2 separate regions of the Homo sapiens genome follow, and region 1 is linked to region 2. The links come from fine-mapping of genetic effects on plasma protein levels. A gene starts in region 2. The other region holds a variant in brackets. All regions are shown on one strand. Distances are from middle to middle.

Region 1 (5,000 bases), 20 kb after region 2:
GGTGACGTGTCCGCCTGGGTCCAGCACAGCACTGACTCCTCCTGTCTGTGCAGGACCCCCCTCCGCCCCACACTACCTCACAGCCGTGGGCATGGGTGCCAAGGTGGAGCTGCGCTGGACGCCCCCTCAGGACAGCGGGGGCCGCGAGGACATTGTCTACAGCGTCACCTGCGAACAGTGCTGGCCCGAGTCTGGGGAATGCGGGCCGTGTGAGGCCAGTGTGCGCTACTCGGAGCCTCCTCAC[G/A]GACTGACCCGCACCAGTGTGACAGTGAGCGACCTGGAGCCCCACATGAACTACACCTTCACCGTGGAGGCCCGCAATGGCGTCTCAGGCCTGGTAACCAGCCGCAGCTTCCGTACTGCCAGTGTCAGCATCAACCAGACAGGTGAGGTCCAGGGGTGGCAGCTGTGCCCTATGGGGCCTGCCCAGGTGGGGCTTAAGGAGGACGGCCATCTGGGGCTCGGGTGTGTTTAGAGAGAGGCAGCAGAGCAAGTGGTTAAAGGCACAGTGTCTAGAGCAAGCTTGTCCAACCCGTGGGCCACATGTGGCCCCAGCCGACATTGAATGCGGCCCAACACAAATTCGTAAATTATCTTAAAACATTATGATATTATTTTTGCAATATTTTTCCCTTTTTTTTGAGACAGAGTCTCGCTCTGTTGCCCAGGCTGGAGTGCAGTGGCTTGATCTCGGCTCACTGCAACCTCTGCCTTCCGGGTTCAAGCAATTCTCCTGCCTCAGCCTCTGGAGTAGCTGGGATTACAGGCACGTGCCACCACACACAGCTAATTTTTTGTATTTTTAGGAGAGACAGGGTTTCACTATGTCGGCCAGGCTGGTCTCGATCTCCTGACCTTGCGATCCGCCCGCCTCGGCCTCCCAAAGTGCTGAGATCACAGGCGTGAGCCACTGCGCCCAGCCTGCAATTTTTTTTTTTTTTAGCTCATCACCTGTTGTTAGTGTTGCTGTATTTTATTTGTGGCCCAAGACCATTCTTCCATTATGGCCCACAGAAGCTGAAAGATTGGACACTCCTGCTCCAGAGCCGCTTCTGAGCTCTGTGACTGTGGGCAGGTTACTTAACCTCTCTGGGCCTCAATGTTCTCCCCTGTAAAGTGGGATAATAATTGAGAATTGAGACTGGGCGCGGTGGCTCATGCCTGTAATCCCAGCACTTTGGGAGGCTGAGGTGGGCAGATCACCTGAGGTCGAGAGTTCCAGACCAGCCTGACCAACATGGAGAAACCCCATCTCTACTAAAAATACAAAAAATTAGCTGGGTGTGGTGGCGCATGCCTGTAATCCCAGCTACTCAGGAGGCTGAGGCAGGAGAATCGCTTGAACCCAGGAGGTGGAGGTTGCGGTGAGCCGAGATCGCACCATTGCACTCCAGCCTGGGCAACAAGAGCGAAACTCCGTCTCAAAAGAAAAAAAAAAAAAGAAAGCATTCAGCAAAAGTTAGTTCTTCTTCTTCTTCTTCTTCTTCTTCTTCTTCTTCTTCTTCTTCTTCTTCTTCTTCTTCTTTTCTTCTTCTTCTTCTTCTTCCTCTTCTTCTTTCTTCTTCTTTTCTTCTTTTCTTCTTCTTTCTTCTTCTGTCTTCTTCTTCTTCTTTTTTTTTGAGACGGAGTTTTGCTCTTGTTGCCCAGGCTGGAGTGCAATGGCACAATCTTGGCTCACCGCAACCTCTGCATCCCGGATTCAAGTGATTCTCCTGCCTCAGCCTCCTGAGTAGCTGGGATTACAGGCATGCGCCACCATGCCCAGCTAATTTTGTATTTTTAGTAGAGACGGGGTTTCTCCATGTTGGTCAGGCTGGTCTCGAACTCCCAACCTCAGGCAATCCTCCCGCCTCGGCCTCCCAAAGTGCTGGGATTACAGGGGTGAACCACCACACCTGGCCTTTTATTATTATTATTATTATTATTATTATTATTTATGCACTCGTAAATATGGGGCACCTCTGATGTGCCAGCCCCTGTGATGGGGCCAGGGTGGAGGCCTGGGGCTCTGGCCCTGTGCTCTGGAGCTGAAAGTTTAGGATCCTAGGTTGGGATCTAAAGAGCCTGGGAGCTGGGCGTGGTGACCACGCCCATAATCCCAGCATTTTGGGAGGTTGAGGCAGGAGGATTGCTTGAGCTCAGGCATTTGAGACCAGCATGGGCAACATAGGGAGACCCCATCTCTACAAAAAATACAAAAATTAGCCAGGTACAGTAGCATGTGTCTGTAGCCCCAGCTATTCAGGAAGCTGAGGCAGGAGGATCACTTGAGCACAGGAGTTCAAAGCTGTAGTGGGCCGAGATCATGCCACTGCACTCGAGCCTGGGTGAGAGAGCGAGATCCTGTCTCAAAAAAATGAAAGAATCTGGGCTGTGGAGGATGTGGCTCCACGTCCACTTGTCCCCCCAAACCCTGCCTGCTCGTAGGCAGCTTCTTACCCACTTCCCCCACTGCCTGTCCTGCCCAGAGCCCCCCAAGGTGAGGCTGGAGGGCCGCAGCACCACCTCGCTTAGCGTCTCCTGGAGCATCCCCCCGCCGCAGCAGAGCCGAGTGTGGAAGTACGAGGTCACTTACCGCAAGAAGGTAACTCCCAGAGGGGCGGGGCTGGCTCTAGCTGGGCCGACAGCAGGGGACAGGCTGGTCACATAGATGATCACCAAACCACCCAGCCATCTGAAGAAGCACCCTTCTGCAGATGGGGAAACTGAGGCCTGGGGTCTGCCAGGGGGTTACATCTCCCAAGGCAGCACAGCAGAGATTTGTACGAGAGAAGACATGGCGTCCTTGGAAGAGGCAGTCAGGGTGAGGACAGGGGCAGAATTTTGGGACCCCACACACTCAGTTTGAGTCCTGGCTCATGCATTTAGTGGTTCTGACCTTGAGTGAGTCACTTAATTCCGAGCCTCAGTTTCCTCCTCTGTAAGAAGAGCCTCAAGTTTGCTAACAAAGGCAAGCCACCTTGCTAGCTTGGGGTGGTCTCCAGCGGGCTGAGCCGAGGCCCCTGCCCTGCCCTCACTGCCTGCTCCTCCGCCGGCCACCCACCCACAGGGAGACTCCAACAGCTACAATGTGCGCCGCACCGAGGGTTTCTCCGTGACCCTGGACGACCTGGCCCCAGACACCACCTACCTGGTCCAGGTGCAGGCACTGACGCAGGAGGGCCAGGGGGCCGGCAGCAAGGTGCACGAATTCCAGACGCTGTGTGAGTTGGGGGACCCTGGGCATGGACCAGGCCAGGGCCCAGAACCAAGCAATTGAGACATCTTGGGAAAGGAAGTGAATCAAATAACTTAGAAATGCCCCTTTCTCGGTCACCGGCGGCCTGGGACAGCCCTTCGGGGACTGCCCCCAAGCCTGGGGAGGGGGAAGCATGGAAGGCTGAGGGGTGGAGGAGCCGGGATGTGGATTCACGACAGTGGTGTGAGGAAGTTCAAATCCGCATCTCAGAAAAAGCCAGAGCTTTGAGCCCCACATACCTGCAATACCTCCCGTGAGACCTTCGGGAAGGCCTCCGCTTGACCGTCTATGAAATGGGACTAAGTACCCTCTGGAGCCTTCCCAAGTGCAAGCACCCAGCACACAGTAGGGGCCCAGGTGTCTTGGGTGCAGCGCGGGTGTTGCTGTAATTTGTGGGGGAACTCCCTTGTCATCAGCTGATTTCTTCCACCAGCCCCGGAGGGATCTGGCAACTTGGCGGTGATTGGCGGCGTGGCTGTCGGTGTGGTCCTGCTTCTGGTGCTGGCAGGAGTTGGCTTCTTTATCCACCGCAGGTTCGTCAGAGCCCATACCCTGGCTCCACATGGGCTTGGGTGGGAAAATGGGGCAGGAACCTCCATTTCCTCATCTGAACGATGGGGCCCACAGGATGCTAGTCGAGTCTAATCCCTGCCTCCGGATGGTGCGAGGATATACGAGTTAGAGTGTGTAGCGAAGTGCCTGGCACGCGGCGGGGCCGGGACACGGGGGTCATTACCTCTGCTCTTGTTGTTATTAATGATGTGTCCACACTTCCTCTGGACACGCAGGCAGGAATCCCCGAGTAGCTCTAATGGGAATGCCTTCGTCACGACTGCTTAAGGGGCCATTCTGGGGCCTAGATCCTGGAGAGGGAGTCCTGGCTCGCTCACTTCCTCCCTGTTCCTCCACCCGCCTTCTCCGCACCCTCGGCCCTGAGAGTGGAGCTTGGGCAGCAAAAGCGGGGACTGGGCCGCATTCTGAGCACCCCAGGTCCTCCTAGGACCAAAGTAGGGCCAGGAGGCTTCCCTGGCCGGAGCAGACCTCACTGACCTCCCTGCATTTGGTTCCCCGTGGGGCTCTTTCAGGAGGAAGAACCAGCGTGCCCGCCAGTCCCCGGAGGACGTTTACTTCTCCAAGTCAGGTGAGACGCAGCCCCCGCTCCAGGCCCAGCCCTGCCCGCACCGTCCCCAGCTCTGTGGGGGAGGTGGGGGCAGCCAGGGTGTTCCCAGGGCACTGGGGTGGGGCCACAGGCTTCCGTGGGCAGCTCTGAGGGGTCCGTCCCCCACAGCCTGGTCCAAGTCTCTGAAGATCACGTGACCTTCTCCTCTGACTCCAGAGCACCCCCCATGGGGCCCCTCCTGAGCTGCCTGTGACCCCACCCCTTCTCCTTCCAGAACAACTGAAGCCCCTGAAGACATACGTGGACCCCCACACATATGAGGACCCCAACCAGGCTGTGTTGAAGTTCACTACCGAGATCCATCCATCCTGTGTCACTCGGCAGAAGGTGATCGGAGCAGGTGAGGTTGGCCCCCTGCCAAGGGGCCCTGAGGAGGCAGCGGTGGTGACACAGTGTGGGAGCCCTCATGCCGGGGCTGACCAGGGCACTCCCCTGACCCTGTCTGCCCACAGGAGAGTTTGGGGAGGTGTACAAGGGCATGCTGAAGACATCCTCGGGGAAGAAGGAGGTGCCGGTGGCCATCAAGACGCTGAAAGCCGGCTACACAGAGAAGCAGCGAGTGGACTTCCTCGGCGAGGCCGG
Region 2 (5,456 bases):
GAACTCGCAACACTGTCATTCACTCATTAGTTCATTCATTCAGCGGAGGCTTGCTGAATATCTAGTATGTATCAGGCACTGTCTGTTTTCTTTTTTTGTTTTTGGCTCTCGCTCTGTCACCCAGGCTGGAGTGCAGTGCCGCGGTCTCGGCTCACTGCAACCTCCACCTCCTGGGTTCAAGCGACTTTCCTGCCTCCAACTCGAGCAGCTGGGATTACGGGCATGCGCCACCACGCCCGGCTAATTTTTGTATTTTTAGTAGAGACGGGGTTTCACCATGATGACAAGCTTGGTCTCAAACTCCTGACCTCAAGTGATCTATCTGCCTCGGCCTCCCAAAGTGCTGGGATTACAGGCGTGAGCCACCGCGCCTGGCCCAGGCACTGTCTGTTTTCTACAAACATCCCTGTCCTCCTGCAGTGTGTCCTCTAGTGACACATCTGACAGATGGAGCCTGCAAGTGGCATGTAACACACATGTACAAGCAGTGGCTTCCACACAACTCACATGGAGTCTTACACACGCCAGTGTCCCTAGCCCAGAGGCTCCAATACAACATGCAAAACACTTATCCAAACCACGTACTACACACATGCTCACACTCATCCACACACCCCATGTGCCTGTCCACAGAGCCCTGGGCACAACACATGCCCTGCTCTCCACGGATGTGGCTTCCTGTTGCTGAACCGCATGTAACCCAGTAACAGCTGAGATTTCATGCGTGCTTTCTGTAGTCCTGGCCCCTGTGGTTTACATGCATGACTTTATTTGATCTTTACAGTAACTCTCCTAAATAGGCTTTACATCTTTCCAGGAGCAAACTGAGGCTCAGAAAAGTGAAATAACTTGTTCAGAAACTCATGGGCTGACTCCACATCTACTGTGAAGTATGGCACACTCACAAATACATGCATACACAAATCCACACTCACATGCACTCATACACAAATCTCTCACACCCACATGCACACTCATACACACATCTAGACACATCCACACAATCCACAAAAACACACACAGACACACACTCATACCCAAATCCTCTCATGCCCATGCACACACACTTATACACACATATACCAACACTTTTTTCTTTTTTTTTTTGAGACAGAGTCTTGCTGGCCCAGGCTGGAGTGCAGTGAGTGGCGCAATCTCGGCTCACTGCAATCTCTGCCTCTGGGGTTCAAGTGATTCTCCTGCCTTAGCCTCCTTAGTAGATGGGATTACAGGTGAGTGGCACCACGCCCAGCTAATTTTTTTGTATTTTTAGTAGAGACGGGGTTTCACCATGTTGGCCAGGCATGTCTGGAGCTCCTGACCTCAAATGATCTGCCTGCCTCGGCCTCCCAAAGTGCTGGAATTACAGGCCTGAGCCACCCTGCCCAGTCACATACAACACTTATGTCCATACACACACTCACACACAGTCATACATACATCAACACTCTCATGTCTATACACACGAATGCACATTCAACAAAATCTCACACCCTCATACACATGCACTTATTCTCACAGGCACTTGCACACTCACAGGCTCTCAGAGGACCAAGGCTCTCCTCCCATCCTCTTGGTCAAAGGCTTTAATTATCCCCAACGCCTGTAATTAACCCTTCCTCTCTTCCTGCAGGAGAGATGTCTGGACCCGCTTCCCAAGAGTAGGCACCAAGGCGAGAGGCCAAGATGTCCACATCCGGCAGAGAAGACCCACGTACCTGGGTAGCAGGTCCCGGGCATCAAAGCGAGGATGGGGTCAGAGAGGAAGAGGTAGGCAAAGGGAGTCTGGGGCCTCCCAGGAAATCAGGCCTGCCACAGTTGCTCTTCCTGGACTGGTCAAATGGTGATTGGCCAACAGGCAGCCGTGGGTGGCTGGGCAGGCGGGCCAGAGCAAATTTCCCGTTTGTTTCACTCACACTAGCCGCTTCTGTCAGGAAGGGAGATGAGCTCATGTCTGAGGAAGTTTTGTGAAGAGGCCTTATCAAGGGGCAGGTGGTAGGCAGGTGTCCTCCAAACTGTCAAAACCTATCAACCCATGCCAGGGTCGGGGGCCAGGGGTGCCCCTTGCCCCCTTCCCCAAAAAGAAGCAGTGGTTCAAGCAGAGACCACCAGGATTCAAATCCTGCTTCTACTACCCGTGAGCTGTGCACCCTTTGGGCATGTTGTTTCTGCTCTTGGAGCCTCAGTCTCCTCTTCTGTAACATGGGGATGATGACCCCTGCCTCCCAGATGAGAATTATTAATAAATAAGATAGTGCATGTCTGATCCATTCCCAGAGGAAATGAACCTATTCTCAGATCATAGTAGGCTTATAGGCTTCTGAACAGAGATACTCTTTTTGACCATCAGCAGCTTGATATACTCTTCAAGGGTTTTAGGAAGGAGGGCATCCAGGTCTATTTCTGGGCCACTCTCTCAGGCCTGCTGCTTAGGAGGCAACTGCTTATTGGACCCCCAATCCATTTCAGCTCAGACCTTCAGGCCAGCGTTGAGCTCAGTCGCATTGAGCTCAGTCTCAGAGGTGAAGGGCAGAATGGGTATGGCTCAGCGCAAAACCATTAAACGTTTCCACCGAGGATACCAGGCTCAGAGATCCCTGGGGGCTAATCCGTAGGGGCGCTGGCGCTTTGAGACGCTCAAACTTTGGAAGGCCTGCGGGGAGCCCGCGAGTCCAGAGGGCCCCAAGGTCCTCCTCCAAACCCCTCCGGACTTCCCCTCCCTCTCCTCCGGGTGCCAGCCCGGCCCCTTTAAAGACATTCCTGAGGGCGGGCGTTGGTGACGTCACGCAGGGCATGAATGAACAGGAGTCGGTTCTCACCCAACTTCCATTAAGGACTCGGGGCAGGAGGGGCAGAAGTTGCGCGCAGGCCGGCGGGCGGGAGCGGACACCGAGGCCGGCGTGCAGGCGTGCGGGTGTGCGGGAGCCGGGCTCGGGGGGATCGGACCGAGAGCGAGAAGCGCGGCATGGAGCTCCAGGCAGCCCGCGCCTGCTTCGCCCTGCTGTGGGGCTGTGCGCTGGCCGCGGCCGCGGCGGCGCAGGGCAAGGAAGGTGAGTGCGCGCGGCGTCTGGACCCCTGGCCCCCGGGCCCCAGTGCCCCCTAGAGCCCGGCGCTCCTTGACGCGCGCAACTTTGGAACCTACCTGGTGTCGCCCAGTCCCGGCGAACTGGAGTCCGGAGGGCGCACGGGCTGCGATCGAGGCGAGCCCTGGCCCCCACCCGGGGTCATAGGGGCTCCGGAGAATAAGCGGTTTCAGCTTGGTCGCACGGGCCTCGGAGGCTGCGGAGAAGAGGACGCGGCGCAGGCCACGCGGTTGCAGTCCAGGCGGCGACTTCGGGAACGCGTCCCGGCGGGGGGCGTGGGGAGTCCCCTAGAGAAGGGGGTGTTTGGGCAGCTTTCCGCGGGCTCAGCTTCTTAGTGACCTGAATTCACTAACCCGCTTGCCGAGGTTTTGCGGAGAAGGCATACTGTGCAGGCCTCGCATTTTGGGGAGGGGGCTCGGGCGGGCGGGAGCCCCCTGTCGAAGCCCCTGTTCCCTGAGATTTTCTCCACGCCCCCCTTCACCTCCAGTCCCGGGGGAGAGCGTGGAGATAGGTTCGGGCCAATCCCTGCTCACACACTCCTTTCCCTCCTTCCCAAGCCGCACTCCCGGGCTCCCGGGGCAGGTTAGGGGCCGCGAGTGCGGACAGGAAGTCCCAAAGTCAAGCGTTCTGAGCAAGGGTGACTCAGAACGAGGAAATGCGGCAGGTGGGGGTGCGGCCTCCCAAGGTGTGGAGCTGTCAGCCCAGGGCCACCAGGGAGTCAGGACACCCGGGGGTGGGGGACTGAATCACCCACCCCCGCCCCAGTGTTCCCGGAGCCGCGCCGAGTGAGGGGCCGCAGACTTTGCTCATGGCGCAGCGGGTGCGTGGTGGGGGTGTTGTCCCTCCGCTAGGGTCAGGGCGAGGATGGGGGCTCCTGCCCTGGCCGAAGACCTTCCTGTCCACCCAGCCCAGGCCAGCTTCAATTTCCAACAGTGAGGGCAAGGCTTCCCCTCCTGCCTGGGCAGAGCGAGGTTTCCGCAGGCTCCACAAGGGGGAAGCCGGGAGGAAACTTGGGCCGGTGAGAAGTTTCCTTCTTTTTTTTTTTTTTTTTTTTTTTTGAGACGGAGTTTCGCACTTGTTGCCCAGACTGGAGTGCAATGGCGCAATCTCGGCTCACTGCAACCTCTGCCTCCCGGGTTCAAGCTATTCTCCTGTCTCAAGCCTCCCTAGTAGCTGGGATTACAGGTGCCCGCCACCAGGCGCGTCTAATTTTTGCATCTTTTAGTGGAGACGAGGTTTCACCATGTTGGCCAGGCTGATTCTGAACTCCTGACCTCAGGTGATCCACCCGCCGCGGCCTCCCAAAGTGCTGCGATTACAGGCATGAGCCACCACCCCCGGCCTGTTTCCTTCTTTTTCTGCCTCCCAAACTGGGTTTGGAGGTTTTGCTGTTCTGTGTTGGGAGGAAAAGAGGCCGGATCTGGAGCCGTTGGGCAGTGGCAGGTGTTGGGGGTGGCATCCTGTCTCAGTCTCTGGAGTGACAGGGCCCGGGTTGGGGTCTCAACCGGGACTTCTGGTTGCAGGAGCTCATGGCAAGGATTTCTGCCACCCTCAATATCCGCCCCACCAACGTTTGGTCCTCCCCCTTCCTGGGGGACTGTGGTTGGAGAGAAGGGGAGAGACAGCTGGAATCACTATAGGCCTTTCTCCTCGGCTGCCCATGGGGGGGTGGGGGATTAGGCGGGTGCTTTGCTGCTGCAGTCCCCAAGCTGGCCTGGAAGCCTGGAGCTGCCTTGTCCTTGTCCCCTGTGTCCACCTCTCCCCAGCCTGTGTGATTAAACCCCACCCCCACACCCCATGGGATGCAGGGGGAAAGGCTTGTGTATTGCACTGGGGTGGGGGTACATTTTTGCTTCGACTCTGAGTCCCCGTGAAAGAGTCCCTAGAGAAGTGTGCCTAGGTGGGGGTGGGCATGATGGCCTAGCTGGCAGCTGCTGGTTTCAGTTCCTGGGAATCAGGCTGTATGTGGTGGGTCTGCCTGGGGGTGGCTTAGGGGGCAGGCAGGAGGACACAGGTGCCTTTTTCACCTACCCCCAGGCTGCTTCAGACTTCTTTCTTGCCCCCTCACCCCTAGGCTATACTTGGTTGCCCACGTGGCTCCTGTTAGGTCATCAACAGCCACTGAATCTGCCCTCATTTTTACAAATGGGGAAACTGAGGGAGGCCCGAGCCCTTGCCAACCAGGGCCTTCTGGACAGAGGACCAGACCTGAGCATCCCGCTTCTTGGCTGCCAGAGCCAAGGCCCTGCCTGCTTTGTGGTTGGTGTCATGGTAGATTTTCCTGGGAAGCAGGCATAGCTGGGCAGGGGCCTGGGCGGGTGGCAGGGGGTGCTGAGCTGGGGTGCTGCTGATGGGAAGAGGGCTGGAGAGTGC

Which allele goes with the higher level. Alleles are on the strand shown, and positions count from the first base shown. The strength of an association depends on the size of the effect and on how common the allele is.
As copies of G replace A in region 1, the plasma level of the protein whose gene starts at base 2,829 in region 2 goes down (weak association).

What was found. A credible set is the group of variants that fine-mapping cannot tell apart. PIP is the posterior inclusion probability: the model's chance that the variant is causal. The UK Biobank Pharma Proteomics Project read protein levels with antibody pairs (Olink). The fine-mapping took linkage between variants from a reference panel, not from the people measured, so its PIPs are less certain.
Region 1: its variant is the best candidate, but not a certain one, in a credible set for the plasma level of the EPHA2 protein (UK Biobank, PIP 0.88). The variant lies in the coding sequence of EPHA2. If it changes the protein, the assay may bind it differently, which can mimic a change of level.

Annotation. Positions count from the first base shown.
Region 1 is chr1:16,133,239-16,138,238 of GRCh38, reverse strand. EPHA2 (EPH receptor A2) reads left to right here. Exons shown (of 17, transcript NM_004431.5): 5 at 54-386; 6 at 2,469-2,584; 7 at 3,050-3,203; 8 at 3,672-3,771; 9 at 4,324-4,379; 10 at 4,633-4,758; 11 at 4,871-5,000. Among named protein-coding and RNA genes, the nearest start is that of EPHA2-AS1, 19 kb to the left of the region's middle. The variant G/A (reference allele first, on the strand shown) is at 245.
Region 2 is chr1:16,153,442-16,158,897 of GRCh38, reverse strand. It overlaps EPHA2 (EPH receptor A2), which reads left to right and starts at 2,829. Exons shown (of 17, transcript NM_004431.5): 1 at 2,829-3,050. The coding sequence starts at 2,966. EPHA2-AS1 (EPHA2 antisense RNA 1) reads right to left here and starts at 3,683. Exons shown (of 3, transcript NR_187275.1): 1 at 3,143-3,683; 2 at 1,719-1,927.